3 separate regions of the Homo sapiens genome follow, and regions 2 and 3 are each reported to be linked to region 1. The links are microRNA targets in miRTarBase. Many come from high-throughput screens and were not tested one by one. Region 1 holds a microRNA gene; each other region holds the end of a gene's coding sequence. Distances are between the middles of the regions.

Region 1 (3,185 bases):
GAGCCAGGTTCTGTGTTCCAAAGGCCAGCATTGCCTGGACCTTGGGTCTGTCCTCACCTGCATAAGAGGCTGCAGGAGCCAAATGGGCCTTCCAGCCTTGTCCAATATTATGGAGTCCCGAGGTGTGGAGTGTATTCTGTGGGCCCAAGAAACAGCAACAGATCCCCAGAACAGATGACAGCCCTAAAGAAAGGCTGCTTTCCTGAGCATCCCTGGGGCTAGAAAGAGTGTGGATCAGGTGCTTCCTATTGGGCTGGGCCTGCAGAGGGGACAAGAGGGGCCAGTCTTACAGCCACCCAGACCATACTTTCCACACACATGCACATGCGCACACACACTTGCACACACACACACACACTTGCACACATATGCATGCACATGCCACCAGATCTCAGCCAGCACAGAAAGGCTCTCCCAGCCTTAGGTGGCTTATGCATTTTCTGAAACTAACTGTGGGAAAAGGGCTTGGGGAACCATCCCATGTGCCTGCACCAAATGCTGTGTGGGTGGGGCAGGACACAAGCCCTACACTGACACCTCCCAGAAATCAGGGAATCAGAGCTTGAGAGATTGTCCAGTAAAAGTTGGAACCCTCAACACCCCTTGACTCTGCCCAGGAGGAGCAACCTCAGAAGCCCCCCCAAACCTCCTCTCAGAGACCTGCCGAGTAGGAGGCTTCTCTCTCTACTCTCCTCCCCGCAAAAAAGAGGCCAGAAAAGAGGATGATTGGCTAACTCAGAGGTGCCCTGATGGAGGGGAGCAAACAAGGGGACTTCCAAGGAGAATTCCCTAGCCCACCTGAAAGACCCCTACCCAGAGTGGTGAGGGGCAGCTTAGGAGCACTGACGCAAGGGGGAGAGACCAGGCTGGCTTCCCTCTACGTAGTAAGTTCCTGGGGTGTGCGCCCCTGCCCCAGACAGCAGAGAAATCGCCTGACTGGGAGATGGAGAAGAGGGGCCACCTTCTCATGCCACCCCGCCGCCAATCCTCCAGGCACACTCGGGCGCTTGACCTGCTGAAGCCTGTAGCCTCAGGTCCAGTGAGGAGCTCACGGGACAGAGGGCCCTACCAGAGCCACGAAAACCGGAGGGGGGGACCTCCGCCCAAGGCAGGCGTCTCTGCGCGCCCGCTGGGGCCCTGGTCCTGCAGTTGGCTTCTCCCGACACGTTCCTTCGCTGCCGAAAGCGATTCGCCCGCGCTCTACCGAGCCCAGCCAGCTCCTACCTCGGCCCGGGCGGCGAGCGCTGTCTCCGTCCCGAGAAGAAGTTTCGCGGCTGGTCCCGGGGCGGCAGGCGCACGGGACGCTGGCGGCGGCGGCGGCTTCCGACTTGGGCTCAGACCCCGCCGCTCCAGACAAGTCCCCGCGACTGCGACAGTGTCTCGGGCAGTTCAGCTCCCCAGACGGGAGACAGACCCTCGCGACCTGGTTCAGGCCTTGCCCTGGGGGACACTGCAGTCCAAGGCGAAAGGAGACTTGCTCCCGGCCTCTGGGTCCCTAGGTCAAGGCACCTCCCCGCCCCGCCGCCCCTGAGCCCAAGTCGCCAACCCCGCGCCGCGCGCAGCGAGGGATCAGAAGGTCTCGGACGCCGCGGCAGGGCCGGCCAGGGCCCCACGAGTTAGGGAGTTGCCCCGCACCCCTAAACGCTCAGCACCCATTTACGGTTGAAAGTACGCACTTGACGCGTCCGGGCGCCTCCGCGGTGAGTCGCGCCGCCGCTCTCGGGGTCCGCGAAGGTGGCTCAGTTCGGGCGCTCCAGTCTCGACGTTCCCGGGGTAGAGAGCAACGTCCGGGGACGAACGGGACGGGTGCGCCCAGCGGCCGGGGCTGCGCTGGGCGAGGCAAGCGGCGAGAGGGGAGCGCTCCGGCGTTCAGGCAACAGCTACCCCTAGTGGGAGAGCCGCCCGGGGCCGGCGCCGCCCCGCGCCCGCTGCCCCGCGCCCCACGCCCGTGGCGCCCCGCGCCCGGGTCGGCTGGGGGCGCAGGGCCGGCGCCGCTTTCCCCAGCTCTCCGGTCTCCGGCGCCCGGCGGTAACCCGCCCGCGGGCTCTGCCCTCCGCACCTCTCAGCCCGGCCCCGGCGGCCGCTGACCCAGGAACCGCGGCGCCCCGCTGGAACGAGATGGGACGGGGCGGGCGCGGCCAGGGCGGCGCGGGCTGGGGCGGCGCGCGGCAGCCTCGGGCAGCGGCGGGGGGCGCGGAGCGCGGTGTGCGTGGCGGGGCGGTGCGGGGGGCGGCCGTGTGCGAGGCGCGAGTGTGAGCGCGCGCGGGAGGCGGGCGGGCGGGCTCCGGCAGGCGAGCGGCGCCCGCGGGCGAGCCAGGAAGGCGGCGGGAACGCAAAGTTGCCTCCTCGCTGGCCCGCGTCCTCGGTGGGGCGGGAGCCGGGGCCACCGAAGCGGCGGCCGCGGACCCGGCCTCCCGCGGCACCTGGGCAGCGGCCCCGCACGAGCGGCAGCGGCGTGGGCGGCGTTGGCGGCGGCGCGCGGGAAGCGAACCGGAGCTCCGGCGCGGCTCGGCGGCCGCCGGGGAGCTCGGCTCAGGTGCGCGGCGAGGGGGGCGCGGGCCGGAGCCAGGCGGCGGGGACCAGGGCGGCGCGCAGCGCTCGCGCCAGCTGGAGGACCTCCCCAGCGGACGCCCAGGTCCCTGGTCGGGCTCCCGGTCCCCAGCGGCAGCGGCTGCCGGAGTCCCCCGCCCCCGAGAGCTGGCTGCGGGGCCCGGGCCCGCCCCCACCGGCCCCAGGCCCGGCCGCTCCGCCCTCCGCCCGCCTGCGCCCGCCCTCAGCCCAAGATTTCTAGGGCATTGGCCGCGCTGCTGGGTGATCCCTCCGGGCTCAAGTTGCAAGGGGGCGGGCCGGGCCGGAGGTGGAGTCTCCCGCCAATTGAAGCCTCCGCTATAAATTGAACTCCCTGCACTGCTGAAGCCCAGATGCCTCGCCAGGCCACGTCGCGGTTGGTGGTCGGAGAGGGCGAGGGGTCCCAGGGGGCTTCGGGGCCTGCAGCCACCATGCTCCGCTCCCTGCTGCTTCACTCCTTGAGGCTCTGCGCCCAGACCGCCTCGTGCCTCGTGCTCTTCCCGCGCTTCCTCGGCACGGCCTTCATGCTCTGGCTTCTCGATTTCTTGTGTATCCGCAAGCATTTCCTGGGCCGCCGCCGCCGGGGGCAGCCCGAGCCCGAAGTGGAGCTCAACAGT
Region 2 (3,000 bases), 56 Mb from region 1:
CTATCAGGTCATAAGATGAACTAATGATAAGGTTTAAGGTAAGTAACCCCCAAAGGAAACTTAAAAGTGGAAAAGAAAAAAGACCTTAAGGACTTAAATAATAAGATGGATAATGAATGGTTAATGGCTACCAATGAGGATATAGGAGGAGGCTATTGCAAGCCTAAATATGGATAGAGCTCTCCATACAGCAAGCATAAATAAATGAAATCCTCTAGGTTATGTCTGTAACACCATGTTAATTTATGTACTTTTTTTTGTCTGACGGGTGCACACACAGCTGAGTCTGAGCAGGTGGTGGTATCTCTGTGTGAGGTTGTTGAGGGACTGCATGATTCTGGCATGCAGCTGGGGCAAAGCACCACCAGATGTCCCTACCCACAGGCCCTGCTGACAATGTGGCAGGAGCAAGATACATGAAGATGTAGCACAGTGGAACCACAAAGAGGCTCCTTTCCTCCTGTCACAGCTTAGCATTGTGCTCACTACTAAAGGAGAAATACTCAAAAAGTCCAGTTATAATAAACTGATAACTGCACACTAGGCAATAACTTAGTGTTTCCTCTCTGTGGTTTTGACAGAATTATTGAGCAGCATACATAAGTCAGCTGCTTTCATACAAATTGAGAGTTGATACTATCTCAAAGGAGCTAAACAATTAGAGTAACTTTTTTGTCCCCTTTTATCAACACCATAGAGTGAAAGAGAATGATACCTAGTTTGTGAGTTCTGCTTCTAGATTTGCCAGTCTAAACTTGAATAAGTCACTTGTTTCTGGGCATCACTTTTATCATTTGGTAAGAAAGGAAAGAGAAGTGATTTGAATTACATGAGCTCTGAAGTCCCCGCCAGATTTAAGGTGAGGAGAGCTCTGCAGTGAGGCTGGTTCAACTACCCAACAATGTAATAGGGGTAAAAATGAGGCCGAGAATAAAGGACTCACATAATTCAAGGCTGCTTTAGTACTAGACTGACTAGAAGAAAGATGTCATATATATTGCAGATACAAGAAAAGCCTTCTTTTTTGGTTTGTGTTTGTTTTTGTTTGTTTTTGAGATAGAGTCTGGCTCTATCGCCCAGGCTGGAGTGCAGTGGCACGATCTCAGCTCACTGGAAGCTCCGCCTCCCGGGTTCACGCCATGCTCCTGCCTCAGCCTCCTGAGTAGCTGGGACTACAGGTGTCTGCCACCATGCCCGGCTAATTTTTTTATATTTTTAGTAGAGACGGGATGGGGTTTCACCGTGTTAGCCAGGATGTTCTTGATCTCCTGACTTCGTGATCCGCCCCCCTCGGCCTCCCCAAGTGCTGGGATTACAGGCGTGAGCCACCGCGCCCGGCCCCAAGCAGAGCCTTCTTAATGCCATCACAGACAACAGAATGGATCAAAACGGTAAATATAATAGGGTCAACATAATGGGCCTGCATTCAGTAATTTATATTAAAAAGAAACTTTCTAAGTCCAAACCAATATACCATTTTGAATATATTTCAGCAACAAAAAAGAGTAATGTAGCTGGGAGTTTGTATTAGTCCATTCTCACGCTGCTATGAAGAAATAACCCGACTGGGTAATTTATAAGGAAAAGATGTTTAATTGACTCACAGTCCTGCATGGCTGGGGAGGCCTCGGGAACTTACAATCATGGTGGAGGGGAAGCAAACGTTTCCTTTTCCACATGGCAGTAGGCAAGAGAACTGCAGAGTGAACAGAGGAAAAGCTTATAAAACCATCAGATCCTCTGAGAACTATCACTAGAACAGCATGGGGGAACCGCCCCCATGAGCTAATCACGTTCCAGGAGGTCCCTCCCCAATATATTGGGATTATAATTCAGATTACAAGTCAAGATGAGATTTTGGTTGGGGACACAGCCAAACCATATCAGAGTTCATATTAATAGATTTGACAGTACTTAACTGGGACACACCTTTGGTCAGATAAACATTCAGTTAAGTTTTCTACTTTCCTAGTTACTGGGTCATTTATCTCACAACCCACCCATCACCCACACCTTACCAAGTACATGTATTTAGAATCAGTACACTTAAAAGTATACTATCTACACATAGGGAAAATCGACAAGTTGGCTGTAGTCATAGACATGTCAACTTTACTATTTATCACAACAGTACAACTTTAATTTTGGGAAACATTCCAAAGTATATCTCTAGCTTAGCTTTTACTTTCTTAAACTATCCTTAGTAACACTTTTAATAAACCTTGTTTTATTTAATAAGAAAAATTAGTTTTATAATCTAGTCAAAATGATCACTGAACATCAGATTTTTCTTTTTTAATAATTTCTATAATCTATAAATAAAAATGTATACAATATAAAATATTTAAATAAAATATTCTCTTATTTACAAATAAACATAAAACAGCAATGATTATTGAAGTGCATTTAATATTGTGAGAGGTCTTTGAAAACCCCATCTTGAGCAGCTTGATTATATATCAGATTTCAGTCTATCTTGGTTAAGATCATTTGGTAACATTTGTATGTCAAATACATAGTGAATATATCTATAGATCTCCTCAGCCTTCTGATGAGTTACTTGTGCATACATGGAGATTTCTTGAAGTGAGCTGAAAAATAAATGAGACAAAATCATTACACTAGGACTTTTGGCTTTTATAAAATTTAATATTACCTAAAGAACACCAAACACAGTAGCCTTTAAGGAAATCATCTCAAGCATTATCCGCCCAGCTGATATGTCTTGAACATTAGTTTGGATAAAAGAGCTACTTGTTTCCTTTCCTTAAAATTATCTAGAATAACAATTTCAACATCTTCAATGAACTGAATGTTTTTGTGTTGCCCAAAATTCATATGTTGAAGCCGTAATCCCAATGTGATGGTATTTGGAAGTGGCAACTTTGAGAATTAGTTGATAAAGGTGGATATCCTTGTGCACTTTTAAGAAGAGGTCAAAGAGCTAGCTAGCTCTATTTCTGCCATGTGAGGATACAATGAGAAGGCAGTAGTCTGTGA
Region 3 (3,000 bases), not on the chromosome of region 1:
ACCAGCTTGAAGGCTCTGAACATATCTATCTCACTATAGAAGGAAGCTAGGCTGACAGCACACTGGACATTAGAAACAGGATGAGGATTAACAATTTGCCTCGAAAATCATTCACCTACAAAGCAGCTGACTGTGTTTTCTTCATTTAAAGACAAACGTGGAGTGGTTCACACAGGGACACCCAGCAGACCGGATTGCCGCAGGAATGGAGCCTGCACCGCTCTTTAGGCAAGGGTCTTGATGCATCAGGAAGTACAAACAACAACAGGAAGAGTTTTGTCCAGATTTACCGAAAAAATGACTTTTTAGGGGCCGGGTGCCGTGGCCCACACCTGTAATCCCAGTGCTGTGGGAGGCCGAGGTGGGGGCGGTGGATCACCTGAGGTCAGCAGTTCGAGACCAGCCTGGCCAACATGGTGAAACCCCGTCTCTACTAACAAAACAAAAATTAGCTGGGTGTGGTAGCGCACGCCTGTAATCCCAGCTACCCAGGAGGCTGAGGCAGGAGAATCGCTTGAACCCAGGAGGCGGAGGCTGTAGTGAGCTGAGATCACACCACTGCACTCCTGCCTGGGTGACAGAGATTCCCTCTCAAAAAAAATAAAAAATGAAAATAAAAGTGACTTTTTCTCAGATAAAGCGATGGTGGTAGAGCAGAGAGGCACGCTAGCAGCCACTGAAGAAGAGAAGCATCTGAGCACCCTTAGCCATCACACCACTGCACTCCTGCCTGGGTGAAGCATCTGAGCACCCTTAGCAGGGCGTGGGTGCCGAGAGCAGAGCATGGCAGGGGGCCCGTGTCTGTTGCAGGCAGCGCATGTTGGCTCTGAGCCCGCCTCCGCCGCGCTCAAGGGGTTCCACGGATTTCAAACAACGCATGCGTGTAAAGCGTGTACAGCTCAGGGTGGAACATGCACTCCATGAATAGTGGCTCTCATACTGCCACGTGGGCTCTATGAGCTTAGGATTTTTAACAGTTGCTCCTACTCCCGTACAGACGGGCAGGAGGGGAGAACATGGCCCTTGAAAGCAGATGGACAACCTGCTCCCGCTCCTGCCTGGCCACACACTATCAAATCACTGCACACAGGTTACTCGCGGTTCTGGAGAAAAGGTGCCCGGGCTCAGACTGGCTCCAACACTACTACCTGCGTGACCTCAGGCAGGTTAGCTCTTCCACATCTCCGTAAAGTGAGGTGCGTGGTGACGAATTCACACAGCAGGCCCAAGGCTGTGTCCTACCAGGGCCTGTGTGCAAGGCTGGCCCTTGACTGACATCTGGGAACTCGGATTCTGGGAGACTTCCCAGCACCATTAACTCCTACGCGTGGCTCTGTGACCACAGTACTTGTGCTCACGGCACAGACCACACCAAACCCACCCTCCTTCTGGACAAGTGGGGAATTCCCACACAGGCCAGGCAGGGGGTACCACATGACCAGCCCTTAGCAAAAGCCCCAGGTGCTGAGTCTCCAGTGAGCTTATTCTTAATAGTTAGGTGTGTCCTGTATGACTCCAGGGAGTGGATCCTGGGGTGTCCACACGTGGCTCCTCTGAGCGCCACCCACACACCCTCTCCCTTTGCTGATTCTGCTCTGTGCTGAGTCCAACCCTGTGCTGAGTCCTGTGAGATCTCCCAGCAGGTCACGCACCTGGGGGCTGGCCTTGGGGCACCTCCGCAAAGCGTAATAGTAATACTCACTTCACAGGATTCGACTGAGGATTCCATGAGTGAACAGGTATACAGGCTCAATTCCCAGTAGCTATGTGTGACATGGGGTGATAAGTGCCTGTCTACCTTGTTGGCTGTGGTAAACAATGAGATAATACATATAAAAATATTTTGTAAAGAGTGAAGAATTACACAAAAAGTGGCATTATTACTCATAAATGGCAAGTATTTTGAGTATATATCATTGCTAATAAGTATCTGCTTGCTGAATACAGACACAAGCCAAATTCCAAACACACATTAGGTAACAACTGGATACAACACACACACATTAGGTAACAACTGCATACAACACACACACATTAGGTAACAACTGCATACAACAAACACACATTAGGTAACAACTGCATACAACAAACACACATTAAGTAACAACTGGATACAAGAAACACTTGGTATTTCCCCTTTATGGAGTGAGAGAGATCTTTAAAATATAAACCCTTGATAATATAATATTACTACTTCCTATTACCTGTTATGCAGTTCTACACATTATCTGACAAATTCTTAATGTAATCTGGTGACAGAGAAAAATAATTTGAGGAGAAAGTATTTAGGGAGTGATGAAACAGACAGAAAATTACTTGTGGTAAGGACCAGTATTGTATTTGACTTTTTAAAAAACCATTTTTACCCTGGAGCTAAAATACGAGGTTATACTGTTCTGCTTAATACAATACTGGCAGCCTAAAAATGCTTCAAGAAACCATATCCCCAACAGCGGCAGAGCATCGGGAGGAGACCCTCTGTCTCTGAGGCTTCGGTGCACTTCTGCTCAGACGGTGGCGGGAGTGGAGGTCGCTGCTGAAGGGTGACGGTGTGGCCATGACACGGGCAGCACGGGAACGGAAGACGCCGGAGACCCAGAAGGCGCATGACTGCCTGGCCTCGAGTCACTAAAAGCAGTTTGATTTCACTCTTGTCTTACTTTTCTAGTATGGCTTCCTCTACTCTCTTAAACTTCTTCAGTTCGACAACGAGTTCCCAGTATTTGAGATAGAGCCACATGAGTCTGCCATTCTGGCGTTTGTTGGTGTTCCAGACATCACCACAGTATGTATCATGCTGAAATATGTCGGTGAGACCGGCTGCCATCTCTAGGTCAGCGGCGACGGGGTCGACGGACGCTCGCACCAGTAAGCTCTTCTCTATCTCCAGCCGCTTGCTGCGAGGAAGAAACAGACTGCAGTAGATATTCTGTCTTTCTGTGAGAACAGCTTCAAATTCTTTCAGCAAAAGCCTGGCTCTCCTTTGCCAGTTTTCTTCCC

Evidence for each region. The annotated mature microRNA hsa-miR-1247-3p reads CCCCGGGAACGUCGAGACUGGAGC and lies in region 1 at 1,751-1,774, opposite strand. An mRNA with a match to its seed (bases 2 to 7 or 8) in the 3' UTR can be bound and repressed. Matches are read on the target gene's strand: a 7mer-m8 pairs with bases 2 to 8, a 7mer-A1 pairs with bases 2 to 7 and ends in A, and an 8mer does both.
Region 2: the mRNA of FANCM is a reported target of hsa-miR-1247-3p. The part of its 3' UTR that is shown has no 7-base or 8-base seed match.
Region 3: miRTarBase lists CCDC127 as a target of hsa-miR-1247-3p. The part of its 3' UTR that is shown has no 7-base or 8-base seed match.

What each region holds. Positions count from the first base shown.
Region 1 is chr14:101,558,576-101,561,760 of GRCh38, forward strand. It overlaps MIR1247 (microRNA 1247), which reads right to left and starts at 1,847; the gene lies at 1,712-1,847. It overlaps DIO3 (iodothyronine deiodinase 3), which reads left to right and starts at 2,920. Exons shown (of 1, transcript NM_001362.4): 1 at 2,920-3,185. The coding sequence starts at 2,922. DIO3OS (DIO3 opposite strand upstream RNA) reads right to left here and starts at 1,847. Exons shown (of 2, transcript NR_152588.1): 1 at 1,677-1,847.
Region 2 is chr14:45,199,461-45,202,460 of GRCh38, reverse strand. It overlaps FANCM (FA complementation group M), which reads right to left. Exons shown (of 23, transcript NM_020937.4): 23 at 1,571-2,591. The coding sequence ends at 2,453. Among named protein-coding and RNA genes, the nearest start is that of MIS18BP1, 52 kb to the left of the region's middle.
Region 3 is chr5:202,641-205,640 of GRCh38, forward strand. It overlaps CCDC127 (coiled-coil domain containing 127), which reads right to left. Exons shown (of 3, transcript NM_145265.3): 3 at 1-3,000. The coding sequence ends at 2,657. Among named protein-coding and RNA genes, the nearest start is that of LRRC14B, 13 kb to the left of the region's middle.